Linked DNA regions of Homo sapiens. The protein of the gene in region 1 purifies or fractionates together with the protein of each later gene. This does not show direct contact. Each region holds a gene or a part of one and is shown on either strand. Other genes may lie near its edges.

Evidence for each region. The genes of interacting proteins can lie anywhere in the genome.
Region 2: the proteins of PRPSAP1 (region 1) and ANKRD44 purify together in Homo sapiens (affinity purification with mass spectrometry; one large-scale study listed by BioGRID and IntAct). This does not show direct contact.

Annotation. Positions count from the first base shown.
Region 1 is NC_000017.11:76,312,448-76,315,916, reverse strand, and holds part of PRPSAP1 (phosphoribosyl pyrophosphate synthase-associated protein 1), read left to right. Parts: intron 1-2,025; coding exon 2,026-2,096; intron 2,097-2,900; coding exon 2,901-3,047; intron 3,048-3,469. UniProt on the Homo sapiens protein: Seems to play a negative regulatory role in 5-phosphoribose 1-diphosphate synthesis.
Region 2 is NC_000002.12:197,010,281-197,013,780, reverse strand, and holds part of ANKRD44 (serine/threonine-protein phosphatase 6 regulatory ankyrin repeat subunit B), read left to right. Parts: intron 1-68; coding exon 69-270; intron 271-3,500. UniProt on the Homo sapiens protein: Putative regulatory subunit of protein phosphatase 6 (PP6) that may be involved in the recognition of phosphoprotein substrates.

The DNA.
Region 1 (3,469 bases):
TGGTGAAACCCCACCTCTGCTAAAAATACAAAAAATTAGCCAGATGTGGTGGCACGTGCCTGTAATCCCAGCTACTTAGGAGGCTGAAGCAGGAGAATCGCTTGAGCCCAGGAGGCAGAGGTTGCAGTGAGCCGAGATCGTGCCACTGCACTCCAGCCTGGGAGACAGAGTGAGACTCTGTCTCAAGAAAAAAAAAAAAAAAAAAAAAAAAAAAAAGCGGATAGGTCAACATAACTGCGTGTTTACATGGTTTAATTTAAAAACAGAATCTCAGGAAGCTGCTCCTAATGTTGGTGGTTTGAAACCCCCCTCCCCCCATTTTAAGTGATTTTATATGCAAAGCCTTCTTGTCTTGCCCAAATTCAAGAAGTTGTCTTTGTTTCTAGGATGTGAAATCAGGAAATATATGTTTGTTGAAATGTATAAAGTAGTGGTGAATTTCAGCTCAACTGATTTGCCAGTATACAGAGAAAAACACCTGTTCTTTGAGATACACAGTGCCTGTTGGGAATCTGCAAAAATTGTTTGTTGGTAGTCACTAAACTCTTGTTACCCTGAATTTTATTCTCTTTCGCTTCCCCCACTACTAGCCTAATAAATATTTCAGAATAATAACAAAGTTTAAAGAAAGAATACTTAGCCTGTTCTTCTGAAGTAGTCTTTGTTTTTCTTCTCTGTTTACTAACCTCCTTTTGAGGATAAAATCTTATTTCCTTTCTTTATCCTGTAGTTTCCTTTGTACACTCATAGCCTTTCTTCAGATGCAGATTTTGCAGTCAGATAAAAGTCTCTACTTTAAGCACCAATTAAATCAGGAAAAGATGATGGGCCTGGAGTTATTGTCTTCAAGTTCCTGATTTTGAGGAAACTCTGATTATGTCAGTAGTGCAGTTATCTGATAGTAAGGTTACACTGTCCAAATAAGGTGACTTTGGAAGAAAATAACATAAAGCCATCTCATGATCTGGCAGCCTTTCGCTGTTTCGCTTTCTGCAGAGCGGCATTCCTTCTGCATGTCTCTGTCAGTCTCTGTGAGAGTGGGGTTTCTATCCACACAGCACTGCGGTGCAGCTTCTCCGTGTTGGCAGAATCTTCCATGCTCTGCTGGTTCGTTGTCTTTCCAGCTGTGCTGTGCAGTGCAATGTGCTGGCTGCTGAGCTCATGAGACACGGCCCGTCTCAACTGAGAAGTGCTGTGCGTATAAAACACACACCAAGTAGAGAAGACTTGATAGGAAAAAAGTGTAAGGCTGGGTGCGGTGGCTCATGCCTATAATCCTAGCACTTTGGGAGGCTGAGGTAGGAGGATTGTTTGCTTCCAGTTTGAAATGAGCCGGGGCAACATAGCAAGATCCCCTCTGAGAAAAAAAAGTGTAAAACATCTCATTAATTTTTATATCAGGTTGGGCGTGGTGGCTCAAGCTTGTAATCCCAGCACTTTGGGAGGCTGAGGCGGGTGGATCACCTGAGGTCAGGAGTTCGAGACCAGCCTGACCAACGTGGAGAAACCCCATCTCTACTAAAAATACAAAACTCAGCTGGGTGTGGTGGCGCATGCCTATAATCCCAGCTACTCGGGAGGCTGAGGCAGAATTGCTTGAACCTGGGAGGCGGAGGTTGCAGTGAGCCAAGATCGCGTCATTGCACTCCAGCCTGGGCAACAAGAGCAAAACTCCGTCTCAAAAAATACATACATACATACATACATACATACATTTTTATATCAGTTACATGTTGAAATTATAATATTTTGGGAATTGCATAAAATAAAATGTATTAATTTCATCTGTTTTTAATGTGGCTACTAGAAAATTCAAAGTAACATGTATGGCATGCCTTCTATTTCTTTTGGCCAATGCTGCTGTTTCTGAGAGATTGCAGGTTCATTGAGGGGGAATTTGCATGGTTTGTTTGTTTTTTGTCTGTATAGTGGTTTTGCCACCATTTCCAGGGAATTAGGTTGTGATTACATTTCTCTAGTGATACATGAATGACTGAGATCTTGTAATTTGTTTTGTTTTGCTAGTGATGATGGCCAAAGAGAAGCCACCGATAACTGTAGTTGGAGATGTTGGAGGCCGCATCGCAATCATCGTGGTATGGTTATATGTCATCCATGTGCAGAGGTGGCACTCCTGGCTCTTGGTCAGTAGGTTGTCCACTCTGGGACTGTATTTCTAGGAACGATGATCCGAATGGATCCATGTATCCTTTCTCACCCAAACTCCCTTGTGCCAAGTGGCAGAAACCTGTATCCAGGTGAACATACATTAAAGTATAACCTACAGATAGGAAATGAGCACAGTACTCCCGTGAGAAAATTCAGCACCTTCACCTTCATCATGTGGATTCTAGGTTCTTTAAACCAGCTCACCTAATCATGCTTGAGCGTTAGGGCCGAAAGATGAACTGAAGATGAGCTGTTCCGTTTTCACAAGTAAGAATGGGTGTCCCCGTGCAGACTCGTTCTGCATGTTGACATACTTTTTTTCCCAGCTCTAAATATCTGCTGGCTAGTGGGTCATGAGTCCTTTGCAGTAGCACACTTTATTTCAGTTTTCTTCTCATGTCACAGTCTATTTGAAAAAAAAATAAATGGAACGCTGGCTATGTGGGATTCACCAGAAACGTGAGACAGGAAAATGAGTGTTGGCAATCCTCAGCTCCAGCCGTAATGTCACAGGTGCTTGACTGCGCCCGCCTCTGACAGACACACAAGGTACTGTCAGGTGCTTCTGTTGCCATTTCTGGATGCTCGTTCTTTGACCCAGGCACACAGCTCTGATTTTCCATCAGAAATCCTCTGAAACTGAGTGCAGAAGAGAGTAGAGTGGTGTGTGCATTGACAGTATGGGCTAGAGGGTGTTTCTTTCCTACCAACTCACTCTGTTCTCCTCCCAGGATGACATTATTGACGATGTGGAGAGTTTTGTTGCTGCCGCGGAGATCCTGAAAGAGAGAGGCGCCTATAAGATCTATGTTATGGCCACCCACGGCATCCTGTCTGCAGAGGCCCCTCGCCTGATTGAGGAGTCCTCCGTAGACGAGGTCAGGCTGCTTCTAAATCTTGAGCCAAGATTTACTGCTGTGTTTTCTGGGAATAATAAAATGATTCAGTCAATACTAAATTGCTTAATCTGTCTATAGCTTTTCTAGCTTTTGCTGGCTAGCAGTTCGTTGGGACAGATACATGTTTAGGAATACAGATAGTCCACGACTTACCATGGTTCAACTTAGAAGTTTTTGACTTTATGATGATGCAAAACCATTGCAATTACGATGTAATGTATAGTATTCGATAAATTACTTGAGACACTTTATTTTAAAATAATCGCTTTTATTATAAAATGAAAGCCTTTGCCCTAGATGATTTTGCCACCTGCAGTCTAATGTAACTGTTCTGGGCATGTTTAAGGTAGGGCTAGGCCAAGTTAATGATGTTTAGTAGGTTAGGCGTATTAAATGCTTTT
Region 2 (3,500 bases), on another chromosome or scaffold:
TCCTGTGGACTGTGGCGGGATTTGAGGTGAGCGAGCAAGCATGGGAGCCATTGGTTTCTTCTTTGCAGGCCTACAATGGGCACCATCAAGCCTTGGAAGTCCTTCTGCAGTCGTTGGTGGACCTGGACATCAGGGATGAGAAAGGCCGCACTGCTCTGGATCTGGCTGCCTTTAAAGGACACACAGAATGTGTGGAAGCGCTTATCAATCAGGGCGCATCCATCTTTGTGAAAGACAATGTAACCAAAAGAACCCCACTTCATGCCTCAGGTAGGTCTTGTCAAGGGCCTGATTACCCTAGTTTTGTGGCTTGTTCGTAAGTTTTAATAGAAGGAAAGCAGCATCTTCTTTCATCCCAGTTTTTTAAATATCAATTTTCTTTCCACATCAGATGCACTTCCACACTTCCAAAATGCTTTTGGCCTGCTATCCTCTTGGAGGTGATTGGTGTTCTCTGGCCAGGTGCTCTGGCCTTGTTAACTCAAAAGAGAGTTCAGAACTTTTGGCTAAAAGCTACCACAAAACATTCTGAACAAAGGGCAAGGTGTAATGCAATCTTCAGAACAAGTTACATAGAACAAAATACATCAAAATCAAACAGTATTTGAAAGCATAAAACCAATAGCAGGTTTTATGGCTATTTCATATTCATATTAATGTATTCAGGGCTATTTCGCATAAGGAATCATAAGGCAGCAATCAGTACATCATTCTGCCAGCCTAAATGATGTTTCTTAGCTTTTTTACACATCGATGTAAAAATCAAGACGCTTTAAAAGTACATGTATATATCAAAAAGAAAGTCATTTGCCTTTTCTGGGATTTTTCTTCCATGCCCATGAAAACCTGTGTCAAGACACTTCTAGATATATACACAGACATAAGGGTAATATGGAAGAGTCTCTAGCTCAGCTAAGGCATAGATATCTTTGGCTCAGGAAATCCAGTGATATCAGCCTTTGATTAGGGTAGTAGATAACATTTTGTAACGATAAATAACTGTCTTACTTGGTGAAATGGGTGTATTGAGGAAGCAAATAAGTGAAGATACTTTTTCAAAAGACTTTATGATTCTTGTTACTTGGGAAAATTTTCCCAGAATGATAGACCTTGTAAAAAACTATTTCCATCTATGTCCCTGAATTTCCAAGCCACTGAAGAAAAACAATACAGAGGTTGAAAAAACCTAATTGTTGCCTACTTACTTGGAAATGATTGTTGCTGGAAAAAAAAAAAACGTTAGCCATAAGGTTAGTAATAGTTGGTGTGGTTGAATTATAAATTCTCATTTCTCATCACATTTAGTCTTTTTTCTCCCCAGCCATTCTTGTTATTATTATAAAATTCAAATTTTGTCCTCCTTTTTAAAAGATTAGTTGCTATTTTTAAGAGAAGCATCCTATTTTTGTTATTATATAATTCCTGACAATTACAAAGGGCCTACTTTGATTGTGGAAAATCGCCCTTATAAACAGGTAAACAATGAAGAACAATCATTTTCACTCATTTGCCAGTGTGATATGGGTTGTGGTCCAGTGAAGCCCCCTAGTGGTCAAGAAGACTCAGTCAGCTTGGATTTTCCTCCTGTCATTCACTAAAAAGACACTGTCACTGGACTGTTCACAAAATGTCTACTGTGCAGAAGCTTTAGCGTGTGCTTTGAGGATCTGCTTACCCAAAATCTTTTTCAACTTTTTTGAGAGGCCAATATTTTGAGTTTCAAATCCTCAGAGCACTATGAGGAGCAAGAGCCAGGACGAGTATGAGAGGTTTTGGCACAGATAGTTGGAGTGACAGTTTGTAGTCTTTGAGTCGTGTGAAAAATGGTTGTCACTCATAGGAAGAGGCTGAGCTGGTCTGAGACAAAGCTGAACTTGGCAGCAGAGCTAAAGATGTTAGCATCTTTTTGCTAGAAGGCAATTTGGGGAAAAAGAAATGTAGTGTGTAGGAAGCCAAAGAGAATTTAAGTTTGGCTACCAACTTCAGGGGAACTTAGATTTACCTGAGGGGCTGGGCGCAGTGGTTCATGCCTGTAATCCCAGCACTTTGGAAGGCCGAGGAGGGCAGATCACCTGAGGTCAGGAGTTCGAGACCAGCCTGGCCAACAAGGTGAAACCCCATCTCTTCTAAAAATACAAAACTTAGCTGGGCATGGTAGTGTGCATCTGTAGTCCCAGCTACTCGGGAGGCTGAAGCAGGAGAATCGCTTGAACCCAGGAGGCAGAGGTTGCAGTGAGCCGAGTTCACGCCACTGCACTCCAGCCTGGGCAACAGAGCTAGACTCTACCTCAAAAAAAAAAAAAAATACCTGAGGGCTATTAGCTAAGTTCAAAAAGCTACTGTACCAAAAAACAAAACAAAACAAAACAAAAGCACAACTGTAGAAACTGTTTTGCTATCTAACACATTGGGTGAGTTATATGAAGTTAGATAATTTTTTTCTTCTTATGTTTAGCCAAATATCAAATGTCACTTGAACTATTATGATTATGACTATTTAGAGTATTAAGTTGCTACAGAAAGAGGAACCAGTCAAAATATGCTGTTTTTCCATGTTCATGAACCTGCCATCTGCAGTATTCAGCTGTCAGTCCTTTGCCAGTCATTTCCTTTTAGCCATACATTAAACTTCTTGCCTACTTCACCAATGGTAGCAGATTTAGTGTAATTGTAAGAACAAAAAACATAACAGCAGCAGCAACGACATATTACCTGTACTCCAATCCACAGAATTTCCTCCCGAGATACATAAATGGAATGTTGCTGAGAATTAGCTGAATGCAATGGTCTACAAAATGTGCACATTATTCCTGTAGTTCATTTGAGTGCTGTTGATGAATGCAAGCTAATTCCAGTATGTATGTATTGTCCCTGAAAAAATGTGTCATTGTTAAATTAGCATTCTCTCGTGGCTGGCAAGCAAATAAAAGGTCTGTAAAATGCAGCTCTTAGGAGAGCCTTTATCAACCTCACATAGCGGCGTCTATTCCCTTCTCTCTCCACATCCATAATGTGGCAAATACAATGTACTTTGTGGCCTTCTCATTGTTAGAGAGGAGAGAAGGTCACATTTGGAATTTTAACCACGGTTGCTCTCATCTTACTCCCTGAGTGGGAAGTCATGCCTATCATAAGGCTTTGGTTTGCGTTCAATAGCCTGGCAGAAAGCAGCTTACCCTGAGGTTATCATCACAGGTTTGCTTCCCAGCCCCTGTGGGACCACTACAGCCTTCTAAAGCTGCCTGGAATTGGTGTGCACAGGAGTGCATCCAGTGCTCCCGCCCCAGCCGGTCCAGGCCTGCCCCGCATGGGGGCCGCATTTCCTGCCCACATTGGCCCCCACTCGGTCCGCTGGGCGAGGAGGGGCAGGGGGAGGCCCAGTCTGGCCTAGGAAAGGGCTCCCAGGGAGCCCAGTCACACCTCGGCCAGGCACGAGGATGCCTGGGAAGTCAGAGAAAGCGCCGCCTGTGGCTCGGTGACCGTGGGGCTGAGGGACCGTC